Regions from separate parts of the Homo sapiens genome. Here region 1 is linked to region 2. A link means that fine-mapping ties the variant in region 2 to the expression of a gene that starts in the linked region. Tissue or cell type: whole blood. Region 2 holds a variant in brackets; the other region holds the start of a gene. All regions are shown on one strand. Distances are between the middles of the regions.

Evidence for each region. PIP is the estimated chance that this variant, and not a neighbour inherited with it, causes the effect.
Region 1: PHF13 starts here. The variant in region 2 is fine-mapped to the expression of PHF13 in whole blood (TOPMed, PIP above 0.99).

What each region holds. Positions count from the first base shown.
Region 1 is chr1:6,609,565-6,617,654 of GRCh38, forward strand. It overlaps PHF13 (PHD finger protein 13), which reads left to right and starts at 4,167. Exons shown (of 4, transcript NM_153812.3): 1 at 4,167-4,541; 2 at 7,193-7,294. The coding sequence starts at 4,503. LOC107984913 (a long non-coding RNA gene) reads right to left here and starts at 3,823. Exons shown (of 2, transcript XR_001737882.3): 1 at 3,128-3,823. RefSeq lists silencers at 3,616-3,665, 3,716-4,495, 4,666-4,755, 4,896-5,355.
Region 2 is chr1:6,636,595-6,644,684 of GRCh38, forward strand. It overlaps DNAJC11 (DnaJ heat shock protein family (Hsp40) member C11), which reads right to left. Exons shown (of 16, transcript NM_018198.4): 10 at 7,964-8,080; 11 at 3,308-3,463; 12 at 1,701-1,770; 13 at 853-910; 14 at 604-746. Among named protein-coding and RNA genes, the nearest start is that of THAP3, 16 kb to the left of the region's middle. The variant C/T (reference allele first, on the strand shown) is at 3,295.

The DNA.
Region 1 (8,090 bases), 27 kb before region 2:
AACCATGGTATTCTTAGTATTTTTAACTTGTTGCAACCTGTGCTAACGTTGGCTTTTTTCCTCCTCTCCTAAGTAACTATAATCATCTGAGAATTAGTATTCAGCAGTTGGTATAATTAGTTTGTTTTTTGTTTTTAGCAGAAAACAAAGAATCATAGACTCCAAGGATCTGGCTACTGTGGTGAATGTTCTTGAACTAATCAAGGAATTTCAGATTCGCCCCCTGCAGCCCAGGAGTAGTACAATACACCTATGAAAAAAACGGGAGATACTGAACAAACCTAATCCTGTCACAGAAAATCAACTGTGTTTTTTGAGACGGAGTCTGACTCTGTCGCCAGGCTGCAGTGCAGTGGCATGATCTCCGCTCACTGCAACCTCTGCCTTCCGGGTTCACGCCATTCTCCTGCCTCAGCCTCCGGAGTAGCTGGGACTACAGATGCGTGCCACCACACCCAGATAATTTTTGTATTTTTAGTACAGACAGGGTTTCAACATGTTGGACAGGATGGTCTTGATCTCTTGACCTCGTGATTCGCCCGCCTCGGCCTCCCAAAGTGCTGGGATTACAGGCGTGAGAAAATCAACTTTATTACTCCACAGCTACATATTATGAGATCGTTTGGGTCAACTACAAGTGGTATAGTCCTTTTTCTGAATTTAGGGAAAGGATGCTAAACATTAATGTCTAAATTTCCTCCAAAGGGCTGTATTTCTAAGGGAAATGGAAAGACAAAAGAGGTCCTTTTTCTTGAAGTTTTCTCTTTCACTGGAGTAGCAGGAAGGTACAGGTCATATCTATGTACTAAAAATTACTGTTTACTAAAAACATATTCAATAAATATCTGGGTGCGGTGGCTTATGCCTGTAATCCCAGCACTTTGGGAGGCTGAGACAGGCAGATCACATGAGGCCAAGAGTTCAAGACCAGCCTGTCCAACATGGTGAAACCCCGTCTCTACTAAAAATACAAAAAATTAGCCGGGTGTTGTGGCGCATGCCTGTAATCCCAGCTCTCAGGAGGCTGAGGCAGGAGAATCGCTTGAACCCGGGAGATAGAGGTTGTGGTGAACCAGGATCACACCACTGTACTCCAGCAGGGGCAACAAGAGTGAAACTGTCTCAAAAAAGAAAGAAGAATAAACTCTCAAATTGGAAATGAAGGACCTACTCAGAATAATGGACTTGTTGACAAAACTGAGCTTAGAATTCACAGGCCTATATTGGACTACTTGGTTACATCAAGGAAGGAAAATCCCAAACATGGATTGAGTCAGGGGACAGATTTTCAGACTCAAGTGATAACTTTTGCTCAGAGTGGGTATTCACTCCAGGCAGGCAAGATAGCTCAGGACTGTAAACTCTACAATTTGGGAGGCCTGGGTGGGAGGATCCCTTGAGCCCAGGAGTTCCAGAACAGCCTTGGCAACATACGGAGACCCTGTCTTAAAAAAAAAAAAATTAGGCCTGGCATGGTGGCTCACGCCTGTTAATCCCAGCACTTTGGGGGAGGCTGAGGCGGGTGGCCATTCTTTCTTTTTTTGAGATGGAGTTTCGCTCTTGTTGCCCAGGCTGGAGTGCAATGGCGTGATCTCGGCTCACTGCAACCTCCACCTCCCTGACCCATGTCGGTCAGGCTGGTCTCGAACTCCTGACCTCAGGTGATCTGCCTGCCTCGGCCTCCCAAAGTGCTAGGATTACAGGTGTGAGCCACCGTGCCTGGCCCGATAATTTCTTAATATGTGTGTGTGTGGGAAAGGATTTAATGTTTATTATGTGACACATTTACCACAGGGGATAATAATGAGGTGTAAAAAAAAAAATCCCTCTTCTTTCACTTGGGTTTCACCTCTAATAATTATTCTTGGCCAGGCGCGGTGGCTCACGCCTGTAATCCCTGCACTTTGGGAGGCCTAGGTGTGCGGATCACGAGGTCAAGAGATCAAGACCATCTGGCCAACATGGTGAAACCCTGTCTGTACTAAAAATACAAAAACTAGCTGGGCGTGGTGGTGGGCGCTGGTAGTCCAGGCTACTTGGGAGGCTGAGGCAGGAGAATCGCTTGAACCCGGGAGGTGGAGGTTGCAGTGAGCTGAGATGGCGCCACTGTACTCCAGCCTGGCGACAGAGGGAGATTCTGTCTCCAAAAAAAAAAAGAATTATTCTTTTTGGTATTTACATTTTTAAACTACCAACGGGATCAACACCTTAGCAGTGTTTCTTATTCTGGCAAAACGAGTTGCTCCTTGTGAATATGACCTTGGGCAATACAGGCTAACTTCGGGGCATCTGCTTTGGTCACAGTAACCAGGTAACATTCCAAATCTGGCTAAATCATCTGTGCAATTGTATAAGAAGTTGTTAATCAAGTCTCGATGGGCCAAGTCCAATGTCTCTGTTTTAATCAGTAATTTCATGTTTTATCTTGTAAAGTACCTCAATTTATCACCTTTGGGAAGCCCTCCAATGGGCTACAATATTGCAGAAATAATAAAACAACAACAACAACAACAACAGTAAGCTACCATTTATTTAGCCAGGCACTACGCTAAAATTTAACAGCTTAGGAAACTGAGGCTCAGAGAAGTATTTTTTTTTTTTTTTTTGAGACAGAGTCTCGCTCTGTCGCCCAGGCTGGAGTGCAGTGGCACGATCTCGGCTCACTGCAAGCTCCGCCTCCCGGGTTCAAGCAATTCTCCCGCCTCAGCCTCCCGAGTAGCTGGGATTACAGGTGTCCGCCACCACGCCCATCTAATTTTTGTATTTTTAGTAAAGACGGGGTTTCACCATGTTGGTCAGGCTGGTTTCGAACTCCTGACCTCGTGATCCACCCGCCTCGGCCTCCCAAAGTGCTGGGAATACAGGCGCGAGCCACCGCGCCCGGCCGCTCAGAGAAGTATTTCTAAGATTAACACCATCTCCTAACTATTAAATATCTTCATCAGAATGATCATAACCCTTGAAATAGCAACAGCCAGCTTGATGGAGCATTCGGCGCCTGTCAAATATCTTACTAGTATCTCCAAGAGTTCGTTTTCTAATTTGAATTTTCAATTTTGTGTCACTCCCCTTTAACTTCTTCGAAGCTACCAAACAGGTTACTGAATCATCTGCGTTTTGTACTTACCTTTTTCCCCCACTTTCGAATATTAAAAATGTTCCCGTCAGACCGCCTTTTGGTCACCGCATAGGGGCAGTCCCCACCGTGTCCGGCCAGCCTTCCACACGTACAGCTGTCGGATACTCTGCGGTCCAGCGTTTACACACTGCCCATCCCAGTTAAACACCACTAAACAAGTACCAGTCGATGCCAGCGCCAAACACCGCGTCTCCGCCTCGCCCTGCGGGCCGGAGGATATTCAGGAGAGTGGGAAAACGGCCGGTCCCAAGGTTAGGCTTAGGCGGCAACAGAAAGCAAACTGAACGCACACCTCTTTAGAACACTGACAACGCTGGCCCGGTGTTTTTAATGCACGAACCCGGCCACCTCGAGTGAATCCCGCAGATGCCTAGAGAAGAGCCCGGTCCAGTCCCGGCCCCGCGGGCCCGGAGCAGGGAGCCGCACGAAGCCCGCAGCCGCGAAAACAACTTCGCTGAGCCCGGCCTGGAGCGGGGGCCGGGCGGCGACTCCGCCCTCAGCGGGGAGCGGGGAGCGGGGAGCGATGCCCGGGGCGGCCGCGACGTCAGCGTCCCCGCCCCTGCCGCCCCTACTCCCGGCCAGGCCTCGGGGACCCCCGCCCCACAAAGGGGCGCGAACCCCAAGTAGGAGACGAGGAAGGGTAGGTGCCAGCCGCCGCCGCCCTTCGCAACCCGGGCCGTCAGCCCCGCCCCCACCGCCGCAGCGACTCCCGCCCCCGCGCCCGCCGAGACCAAGGCGCTACCGCTCACACTGCCCCTCCCCCCGCGGCCGAGCCGGCGCGGGCCCCCGCACCTCCCCCGCTCGCGCGGCCTCGAGTCCAGAAGACCCGCCTCCACACACCGGGGCCGCCGCCGCGGAGCCTCATGGGGGTTGGAGTCCCCAAGGTTTCCTTTGTGCGCAGTATTGGCGGGGCCTTGGACTACCACTCCCACAAGGCACCGCGCCCGCCTCCCGCGCCACGCCCCCTCGCCGCTGGCTTCCAGTCGCCACCCAGACTACATTTCCCGACAGGCCTCCCGGCTCTCCCGCCCTCCCTCCCGAGACACGAGCCGAACTGGGCGTCAGGTCGGGGAGCCGGTCGGGTTCCCGCTCACCGCCGCCGCCGCCGCCCCCTGCAGCCACTCTCCCGCCTCTACCGCCGCGGGAGCTGCATCGTCCACTCCGGTCGGCGGTGGAACCGCCAGTCCGGGGTCACAGAGCTTGAGAAGCGACGCGCTGAGCCCCCCATCACCTCCAGCCCGGGCGACCCCTCCCGGGTCCGCCCTCGCCCTGCGCAGCCGCCCGAGCCCCCAGCCCCGGGCGGCCCCGCTCCAGCATCCCAGCTCCTGCACTCTCGCAGCCGCCGCCGCCCCCCGCCCGGAACATGGACTCTGACTCTTGCGCCGCCGCCTTCCACCCGGAGGTGAGTGAAGCTGTGCGTCCGAATCGCCCCCGACCACCCCCTCCGCGATCCTGCCGTCCTCAGGCAGCCAGACCCCCGGTCGCCCGGAGCGCCGCCCTCCCCTTCCCCCGCTTTCCCCTCGTCGGCCCCCCCGGGAGCCCAACCCCCGCCCCCTGCTCGGGCCCGCGCTCGGTCCTCTCCGCCGGGCCTCGCCTCCGCGTCCCCTCCGCGGACCTCCGCGTCCTCCCCGCGCCCTTTCCCCAGGGCCGTTGCGCCTATTTCTCTCCCCCGGGCCGCCCCTCTCCGGCCTCGCGTCGACCTGGGACCTGTCGGCGCCCCCAGCCCCTCCCCGCCGGCCTGCTTACTCTTTCCCCGCCCCCGGGGACGCGGTCCGAGCCGCCGCCCGCCCCTGGCTCCGGTTGCTCTCGAGGAGTTTTAGGCCCCCCTCGGACCGGGGTCGGCTCCCGAGGCCCCCGGCTGCTCCCCCGATCCCCCGGGCCCGGTGGCCCGCGCCCCGCCCCCTGACTCCGCGCGGGGCCCAGTCGGCCCCCGCCCCCTACGGCTCTCGGGGGCCGCGTCCTCCGGGGGCCCCACCCGCTCTGGGGACCCGAGTCCTGCCCCCACCCACCGCCCCCCGGCGCGCTGGCCTCTCTCTTCGGGCCCCCGCCCCCCGCCCGCGGGCTTTGCTGGCTCCGCCCCGGCTCACTCCCCCTCCTTCCGGGGATCGGCCCTCGGGGCTCCCGGCCTCCCCCCCGCGCGGTCCCCTCCCCCCAGCCGAGGCTCGTTGGGGTCGGGGGTGCGGGTCCGGCGACCGCGGGCGGGTGGGGGAGGGGAGGCGGCGCCGGAGCCCGCCGGTCTCGCTGCCGCCCCCGGGGGTTCGCAGGGCCTCCCCAGGCCTGGGACCCCGGAATCCTGCCTGGCGCACCCCCCTCACACATACTCGCGGGATGGGCCCCGCACCTTCGGGGGCCGAGTGTCGCGGGGGGCGGCTGCCGCGGGAGGGCGGGTGGGGGCCGCTCCGCCATCTGCTTTCCGAGGAGGCGGCCGGGGGGGCGGGCGGCGTGGGCCGTGTGGGGGCGGCGTGGAACCCCCAGTCCCCGCGCCGGTGCCTCCCGCGCGCCCCCGGCCCGAGGCCGTCGCCGCCCTCCACTTGGCATTCGGGTTTTTGACCCACTTCTGCTGGTTCCCCGCCGAAAGAAAAGTTCTTCGCGGGAGTTGGAGGCCCGGGTGGCGGCCCGCGGTTCCCGTGGCTGGGCAGGCTCGCCAGTGCGGGGAGCGCGGTCAACGCGGGCCTTCGCCTCCGCTCCGTGGGCGGCCCTGGGGTCCAAGGGGGTGGGAGAGGAGAAGGTTTGCTTGAACCAGGTTGAGAAAATAATTTTCTAAGGGCACCGACTTTCTCGAAAGAAAACCCGCGGGCCGCACGCCTGCTCCTCGCGGCGGGAGGGGCGGCCCGAGACCCCTGCCCCCCATTTCCCCACCGGCTCTCCCCCAGCAGAGTGGCGGCCGGGTAACAGCACCTCGGGAAGGATGGGGGTGGGTCGGACAAGGCACTGAAAGGAACCTCAGGGAACGTGCCGGGCGAATAAACAGCAATACGGCACACTTGTTTTGCTTAGGAGCAAATAAGAGCTCCATCTCTCCGTGCTTCTCTCAGGAGAAAATATCTTTTTGTGATGGGTGTTTCTAGATGGAATGGGGCTGGGACCCGCGAGCAAAAACCTCCACTATTCCGTTTAAATGTAAGACTAAGCTTCGCAGTAAGGTTCTTGGTTTATTGTGAGTTGAGATAGTTGGGTGCCTGGCATCCCGACTGGCTGGGACAGTGGAGGGGACCCTCTGAGCACGAGAGAGGGGTCCTCAGGTGGCGCTAGCTTGGCAGGGTCAGCCAGGAGTGAACTCCAGGGTCCAGGTCTCCGAGAGCTCTGGAGAATGAGTGGTTGATTTTTTTTTTTTTTTTTTTTTGAGTTGGAATCTTAGCTCTGTCTACCGGGCTGGAGTGCAGTGGCGCGATCTTGGCTCACTGTAACCTCCGCCTCCGGGTTCACGCGATTCTCCTGCCTCAGCCTCCTGAGTAGTTGGGACTACAGGTGCACGCCACCACGCCCGGCTAATTTTTGTATTTTTAGTAGAGACGGGGTTTCACCATGTTGGTCAGGCTGGTCTCGAACTCCTGACCTCGTGATCCGCCCGCCTCGGCCTCCCAAAGTGCTGGGATTACAGACGAGAGCCACCGCGCCCGGCGAGTGGTTGATTTTTGAAATCACTTAACATACATCAGTTCCAGCTGCTGCTGCAGCAGTTCATACTCAGAATGGAAAATCTGTAGCAAAAAAGTAGTTATTAGAGCTTCGCCTGATAGGCCTGTGGAAACTAATAGATAAAGTCAGAAAATGCCACATGAGCACTAAGAAATAGACTTTTGTAGAAGTTTTTATCTCCCAGCTGATTTCCCAGCATTCTTGGCATAAAGTCTTAATACTCCTCTTTCTGCTCTCTGAAAATAGTGTTATTTCTTGACCTGAACTTACCGTATCTTGTTTGTGGACTGTGTAAATCTAACGGTATTTTTTGAGTGATTGACTACAAAAGTTCCAGCTTACTTCCTTTTGTTTCTGTGATTCCGCCTGGAAGCCTCTCCTTCAAACACATTCCCTTTTCTCTCCCCTTAATAGGAATACTCCCCCAGTTGCAAGAGGCGCAGGACCGTGGAAGACTTCAACAAATTCTGCACCTTTGTCTTGGCCTATGCTGGCTACATCCCTTATCCGAAGGAGGTAATCTTCTGAGTTTCTGAGACCTTTCTTGATGAGTAGTCAAACCCAGTGCCTCCACCGCAAGTTCGTGGGCTTCTGACTGGTCAGAGGGTCAGTAGGTTTGGAAGGGGCTGCTTGTGGTGACCCCAGTCACTAGTCTGGCAGAAATCTGTTTCTTGAGAGTTTGAATTAGCTGGGGAAATGGTTCTAAAACTCTGGTAAAAACTCTGGTAGAAAATGCAGGCTTGTCTAGAAAATGATTTAGTAAACTTTCTTTTTTTTTGGAATGGAAACTTGCTCTGTCGCCCAGGCTGGAGTGCAGTGTCGTAAAACTCCACCCCCGGGTTCAAGGGATTCTCCTGCCTCAACCTCCTCAGTAGTTGGGATGACAGGCGTGCGCCACCACGCTAATTCTTTTTTGTATTTTTGGTAGAGACAGGGTTTTACCTTGTTGGCCAGACTGGTCTCGAACTCCTGACCTCAGGTGATTCACCTGCCTCGGCCTCCCAGAGTGCTGGGATTACAGGCGTGAGCTACCGCCCAGCCGATTTAGTAAACTTTCAGTTTATTTACAAATAAAATATGTGATATTTGCTTGCTCTTTTTGTTTGTTTGTTTGAAATGGAGTCTGGCTCTGTCGCCCAGGCTGGAGTGCCGTGGTGCAATTGTGGCTCACTGCAACCTCTGCCTCCTGGGTTCAAGCGATTCTCCTGTCTCAGCCTCATGAGTAGCTGGGCGCGCCACCACACCCAGCTAGTTTTTTGTATTTTTACTAGAGACGGGGTTTCACCGTGTTGTCGAGGCTGGTCTCGAACTC
Region 2 (8,090 bases):
AGGCAAAAATAAACAGAATCAAATGCCATGAAGGCAGGCGTGTGTTCTGTTTGCTGGTGTGACTGGCACACACCAGGGGCTCAGTAAATCCTTACTGAGTGGTGAAAGAAATGACTGAATGAAGAGAATAGCTCCAACGTGGGTACTACTCAGGAGCTGGGCAGCATCCCACACAGTAGATGCTGATGACGGCAAAGATCCCACTTTAAGGGGCCAGGCTGTCCTTGTCAGACTGAACCTATTCTTCACACCACTGTTTGTTTGTTTGTTTTGAGACAGGGTCTTGCTCTGTCACCCAGGCTGGAGTGCAGTGGCACAATCACAGCTCACTGTAGCCTCAACCTCCTGGGCTCAACCAATCCTTCCGCTTCAGCCTCCCGAACAGCTGGGACAACAGGTGTGTGTCACCATGCCCAGCTGATTTTTTCTCTTTTTTGTAGAGATAGGGTTTTGCCATGTTGCCTAGGCTGATCTTGAACTCCTGGGCTCAAGCAATCCGCCCACCTTGGCCTTCCAAAGTGCTAGGATTATAGGCCTGAGTCACCGCGCCCAGCCTGTTCAAATCTGTGAGCACATAGCATGTGGTGGCTGGTGCTGCTGTACCTTGGAGGCCTCCGTGAGGATGAGCTTCGAGTCCTTCACCAGGCACTGCAGGGGCACAGTCACGTCAATCACCTTCACCTTCTCGCTCTTCCTGCTCTTGTCATTGACAAACTTCCCGTACCAGGCATTGACGATGATGAGGCCTAAGGACAGACTCCGAGTAGAGGAAGGCCTCCTCCAGGCACCTCCTTGTGTGGCTTAGAGACCCCCAGCGCCCACCCTGGACCAAGAGAGGACACATGTTCTCACCCATTCTGGACTCTTCTGCCTCAATTATCCTTCGGACAGATTCCTGCATCAGCCGGACCTGCCAGAGAACAAGGATGACACAGTCAGGGCCCTGCCAGGCCTGTTCCACCTCTGGTGAGAGGGCCACAGGCAGGCAGTCTTGTCCACGTCAACATACTTGCTCAGGGCCTGGAAAGGAAGGGAGTGGGCACCCTGACAGCTCTGCTACCCGAGTGGCTCACTCTGAAACTCCTAGACCTAGGGCAGGCAGCTCTGGGTCAGAAGGTGAGAAGCACCTGAAACGGCATGACCCTCCGGTGGCCACCGGTGGGAGCTCCCTTTCTAGGGATCATTAATGCGTGGGTGGGATTTGTTGACCCAATAAAAAAACAATGCGTTGTCAGCTTTAAAAATAAAGAGATTTCACAGGAGAAGCTGGAATCCCAGCTCCTCTTGAGAAAGGACCTGTGTTCTCCTGTGGTGCCATTCTGCTGGGCATAGCTGTGCCGCCCCCTCAGACAGGCATGTGCTCGCCAGGCCGCGCACACGGCCCATGGCCACCTGGCAGTATGCTCGCCACATACCCAGGAAGCCTGCTCCCTCCTGCTCAGTAAAAGGCAGAACACTCAGAGGGAAGAAAAAGAGGCCAATACTCACCACTTTAAAAAAGCCCTTGTTAGGCCTTTGGAGGGTAATTATCTTCAGGGCAGGGACTGCAGAGCCCAGTGTCGCATCCCACAATAAAGACTAAGTGGAGAGCCAAGTTGTTGGAGAAGAGAAGTCTGACCTCTAAGGCCCTGAGACCAACATGTGGGGTGTGGAGTGTGTCCCCTACAGCCCTCGCTTGGGAACGGTGGGGCAGCACTCACAGCGGACTCCGCCTCTTGCTTCTTCTGCAGCACATCGGTGGCGGCGCTTTCCCTCTGCTTCTCCAATTCCCTTACGCGAGAGGAACACAAGCCCCACGTTAGCGCGGCGCTGCCCAGCTTCCAGCCAACACAGCCCCTCCCGTGCTGGACCCGAGCCCAGCAAACAGTCTGTGATCTTACTGGAGTTCAGTTGTAGAACTTTAAAAAATATTCCCACGACAGTCTCAGGCAAGTCTGTTAGTCACAGGCTGGCAGCTTTCATTTTATCCTTAGATGGCTCTGCCCCACCTCCTCACCAAGCTGACGGGACACCGACTGTCAGTCTCTTTGGAAAGAAGACCCCACCACAGGAGAATTTCAGGAGATCCCACCAACCTTGTGGGATTATTATTTTTTTAATTTTAATTTTAAGATAGAGATGGGGGTCTCACTATATTGCCCAGGCTAGTCTCGAACTCCTGGGCTCAAGTGATCCTACTGTCTCGGCCTCCCGAAGTGCTAGGGTTACAGGCGTGAGTTGTTAAATAACACTTTTGGTAGGAACAACTAATACCACTTTAGACACACAGATCCGCTTTCCTGTAACAAAGTATGGGCCTTGGGGTCAGCATATGCCTGTCCTCCCTTCTGAGAGAAGGCTGGGCCAGCACATGTCTTGTTCTAAGCCTCAAGCCTCCTAGGGAATTAGGATTCTGAGTCCAAAGGCCAGACGGGCCCAGAAGAGGAGATTCATTCCTTTATCTGAGATTCTCTAAGTGCAATGCTTTACTAAATGAGATATTATAAAGTAACAAATCTATACCAGCTCTCAGTTTTCTGTAGAGATGCTTGCACTAATAATTTAGGTTTCACGGCATGCCCCAATGGATTATCTAAGAAACTGCAAAAACGTTGTGTTTCTGTGACTTTCAAGACTCTAGTTAACGCAGGCCCCTCACATACGGATCCAGAACGCATTCCTCTTAAACTCAGCGCTGGGAAAGGAGAAAGGAAAACTTCTTCTTTCTTGAGGCCATGGTTTAGAGGATCAACACTTTTTTTTTTTTTTTTTTTGAGACCGAGTCTTGCTCTGTCACCCAGGCTGGAGTGCAATGGCGCAATCTAGGCTCACTGCAACATCCACCTCCCAGGTTCAAGCAATTCTCCTGTCTCAGCCTCCCAGGTAGCTGGGATTACAGGCACGTGCCACCACGCCCGGCTAATTTTTCTATTTTTTTAGTAGAGACAGGGTTTCACCATGTTGGCCAGACTGGTCCTGAACGCCTCACCTCGGGTAATCCACCTGCCTCAGCCTTCCAAAGTGCTGGGAATACAGGCGTGAGCCACCACGCCCAGCCGAGGCCCAACACTTCTATAAACTCCAGTCCTTTCTGAGAGTAAGATTTACAAACGAAGAGATAACAGCAGTCCAACTACGGACAATGAGGAGAAATAGTTAACATTTACCAATCGTGACCCAGACATCAGCCTAAGTGCTTTACATGCATTACTTAATTCAGGTTTCCTCATCACCCGACGCAGGAGGCTCTGTTATCCTCTCCATTTTAAGGGTGAGGAAACTGAGGCACAGGGCTGGCTAGTGACATGCCCATGA[C/T]GTGTCAACTCACTTCTCTTTCTGAGCCCTGAGGTATGGTTTGATGATCAGACGGTGCATGGCAAAGTAGACCACTAGAGGCCCCACGGTGGCATAGAACATGGCGCTGGGCAGAAGCTGGTCCGTCAAGTGAATAGGGAAGAAGTATGTCTGACTGGCCCTGTTGAGCCTGGGGAAAAATACAAAAAAAAAAAAAAAAAAGCCAAGATGAATCAGGTTTTCCAGGGAAGGGCAATGGGGTGTCAGGCACAGGAAGAGAACTTGTGCTGCGTGCAGCTGCGAGTTAAAGGAGCCTGCAGTCTGCTCCTTTCACAGTCCACCACCTTCTGGCCTCCCGTTCCAAAGTCTGGCTGATGGATCTGACACTGTGACAGAAGAAAGATCCCAGTGTCTGCTGACCTCAAGCCAAAGCAACAAGAGGAACACTTCACGGGGTCAACGTCCCCTACAGGTGCATTCAGTCATAGGCTGGAGAGGACAGGAATGGGCTCCTCCAGATGTCACTGGAGAGTCACATCTCAGTTCTTAACTGAGGTTTCCAAAGAAGTTAGTGAAGACTTCAAAAGTTAGTCAGTTAAGGAGGTTCTGCTTCCAGTGGTGGCTGAGTAAAGTAGCTCCTATTGGACCAATGTGTAAACTCTGGACCACATATAAAAAATTTGGCCAGGCGTGGTGGCTCACGCCTGTAATCCCAGTACTTTGGGAGGCTGAGGTGGGCGAATCACCTGAGGTCAGGAATTTGAGACCAGCCTGGCCAACATGGTGAAACTTCATCTCTACCAAAAATACAAAAATTAGCCGGGCGTGGTGGTACCTGTCTGTAGTCCCAGCTACTCGGGAGGCTGAGTGAGGCGGGAGAACGCTTCAACCCAGGAGGCAGATTGTACCACAGCACTCCAGCCTGGTCAACAAGAGGAAAAGGACTGAGGATGCATGGACAGAATCTCAGAAACCCGTGGAAGAGTGTTAAGTTTAATATATTGGTAATTAGAGCCCCAGTGAGGAAAAGGAAATTTACAGATGCAAGAAGTTTAGGAAACCCCAAGCATCATAAATACAACAACAGCCTTATCTATGTACATCACAAACTGCTGAAAAGCCAGAAAAAGAAAACATGCTGAGTAGCCACTGACAATACCTGATCACACTCTTCCAGAATAAAAGCTCTTCCAGAATAAAAGCAATTCCAGAATTGATAAAGAACACTCAAAACTTGGCCAGGCTCAGTGGCTCACGCCTGTAATCCTAGCATTTTGGGAGGCTGAGGCAGGAGGATCGCTTGAGGTCAGGAGTTTGAGACCAGCCTGGCCAACATGGTGAAACCCTGTCTCTACTTAAAATACAAAAATTAGCTGGGTGTGGTGGTGGGCGCCTGTAATCCCAGCTACTCAGGAGGCTGAGGTAGGAGAATTGCTTGAACCTGGGAGGTGGAGGTTGCAGTGAGCCAAATGCACTCCAGTCTGGGGTGCAAGAGCGAAACTCCGTCTCCAAAAAAAAAAAAAATATATATATATATATACACACACACACACACACACACACACAAACAGAGACAGGTTAAATGTGAATGGGTAAAAAAAATAAATAGTAAGCATAAGAAGACTAAAAAAGCTATATAGTAACAGATAAGGTAGACTTCAAGACAAAAATTTTTTTTTTTTTTTGAAGTGACAGGGTCTCACTCTGTCATCTAGGCTGAGGGGCACAATCACAGCTCACTACCACCTTGAGCTCCTGGGCTCAAGTGATCTTCCTGTCTTGGCCTCCCAAAGTGTGCGCGCCACTGTACTGAGCCTTCAAATATTATCTGAGGAGAGATGGCTGACGCCAGCTCTAATCTAGGTAAGTGATTTGGCTTTGTTTCCAAAACTGAGCTGTGATCCACTTTGATTCACTCACTGAGTTCCTCTCAAGTACCACGATGGGTTTTAGGTTCTAGAAGTGCGGGTGAGAATAAAATGGACCAAGTCCAAGAGCTTATGTCTGATGAGGAGTGCAGGAGATGGCCCTTCAGATGGAGACTGGCTCGTTGGAGATTGAACATGGCAAACATGGTGGGGGGGATCACCTGGGGCAAGGGGAAGGGCTACTATGTTATACAAGGTGAATTAGGGGACATTTGAGCAGACAGCAGATACTTACAGGGAGTGAAGGAAATGGCCACGTATTTATCTGCAGACTGAGAAATAGCAAAGGCCACCTCATAAGCAGGAGGGGGCCTGGTGTGTGCCAGGAATAGCTCCAGGGGGTCAGGATGGCTGGGGTTGGGGTAGAGAGGAGTACTACATCACGGAGGGCATTGTAGGCTCCAAAGTCTCTGAAGGGCTTTGGCCTCCGACTGGAATTGAGGGAACCTCTGAGGTTTTAGGCAGAAGACAGACGTGAACTGCCTTCAATTTTAAAAAGGACTCTCCTACGGAAAGCAGACACACAAGGAGGGAGACAGGTTCCGTGGGGAGGGTGCTGTGTAACTAAGACAAAGATGCTGGCCGCAGTGAGGTTGAGAAATGGCGAGACTGGGGATACAATTTTGGAGTACATGTTCAGGAGATGATTTTGAGATATGTATGATTTGGAGTGTGGGAGAGAAAGAGATCGAGGCTGACTCCAAGGTTTTTGGACAGAGCAAGTAGAAGGCCAGAGCTCTCATTTACTGAGATAGGAAAGGAGGCTGGGCGCTGTGGCTCACACCTGTAATCCTAACACTTTAGGAGGCCGAAGCGGGAGAACTACTTGAAGCCAGGAGTTCAAAACCAACCTGGGCAACCAAGTGAGACCCTGTCTCTATAAAAATAAAATAAAAAAAGAGAGAGAGATGGGAAAGACTTCGGGCAGAGCAGGTTCTGAAGGTTCTTCGTTTCTGGGGGCACAGGGAGGGATCGAGTTCTGTTTGGATACGTGACATCTGAGATGCTGTTAGGTATCCAAGTAGAGATTAGGAAGAGAAAGCTGGACAAATATATGAGCTGGAGATTGAGGGGGTGGTCCAAGCTGGCACTTGCAACGTGAGTCCTCAGGGCATGAGAGCCATGAGGCTGGACATGACTGCTTGGGAGTGAGTCGAGAGAGAAGGGCTGTGCCCTGCAGTGGTGCCTCCATTTAGGGGTTTGGGAGACAGCAGCCATCTGGTACGGAAAGCCAGAGCAGGGCGTGGTATCCTGGAAACTCAGGGCAGAGAGGCTGTAAGGGCAGGAGGGAACGGCCACCGCGACAGCAGGTGCAGAGACCAAATGAGATGAAGAAGAATCACCCTCTGATCTGCCACAGGAGGGAGGGTGCCCCACTGATGAGGTGAGAAAGGCTGATTCTGGAGAGGGCTGGTTTTGCTGGAGAGGCCTGACTGGAGCACGTTTAGAAAGAAAGAAGACGGATGCAAGCGAAAACAGACATTTTTTTTTTTTTTTTTGAGTGGAGTCTCGCTCTGATGCCCAGGCTGGAGTGCAGTGGCGCCATCTCGACTCACTGCAAGCTCTGCCTCCCGGGTTCACACCATTCTCCTGCCTCAGCCTCCCAAGTAGCAGAGACTACAGGCGCCCGCCACCACGCCCGGTTAATTTTTTGTATTTTTAGTAGAGACGGGGTTTCACCGTGTTAGCCAGGATGGTCTCAATCTCCTGACCTCGTGATCTGCCCGCCTTGGCCTCCCAAAGTGCTGGGATTACAGGTGTGAGCCACAGTGCCCGGCCAAAACCAGACAACTCTTTTGAGGAACTAAGGAGAGGACAGTGACTAGACTCAGGTGGAGCAAGGGTATGTGTGCCAATGGAAACCCCTGGTGAGAGGGATGAACCGATATGGCAGCTGCTACTGGAGATGCTGTGCCCGGGGGATAGCTGCCAGGCCAGTGACTCCAGGAGGACTGGGCTGCTAGGATGCATCCTGTGACATCAGGCGAGGCTGCTGGAGCTCAGACGTACACCTCACTCACTCGGTGTTGGAACTATGCACTGCTTGACATTTGCTTACTCAGCAAAGACACAAGCAACTGTATTTTTTTTTTGAGATGGAGTCTCACTCTGTCACCCGGGCTGGAGTGCAATGGAGCGATCCTGGCTCACTGCAAGCTCCGCCTCCTGGGTTCAAGCGATTCTCCTGCCTCAGCCTCCCGAGTACCTGGGACTACAGGCACCCGCCACCACCCCTGGCTAATTTTTTGTATTTTTAGTAGAGATGGGGTTTCACCATGTTAGCCAGGATGGTCTCGATCTCCTGACCTCGTGATCCACGGCACCTGGCTGAATTTTTTTTTTTATATTTTTTGAGACGGAGTCTCACTGTCCTCCAGGCTGGAGTGCAGTGGCACGATCTCCATCTCAGCTCACTGCAACCTCCGCCTTCGGGTTCAAGCAATTCTCCTGCCTCGGCCTCCCAAATAGCTGGGATTATAGGCGTGTGCCACCACGTCTGGCTAATTTTTGTATTTTCAGTAGAGATGGGGTTTCACCACGTTGGCCAGGCTGGTCTCAAACTCCTGACCTCAGGCGATCCGGCCGCCTTGGCCTCCTAAAGTGCTGGGATTACAGGCATAAGCCACTGCACCTAGCCAAGCAACTGTGTCTTTAAGAACAAAATTACAATGCAAAGGCTATTTCAGCCTTAACTTGGGTAAAGCCTGGTTGAGTGAAGGTGACAGGCATTCCTTGACCCGAAAGGCCTAAGTTCAACTTACTTGACTTTGAGAGAAACACCCTGTGGAACTCCAACGCTGACAGCTGCACCCAAAACGCTGTGCCTGGAGATCTTCCTCTCAGCTCCGTACTCCACCACCGTCCCAAAGAAGCCTGCTCTGCAGGGAG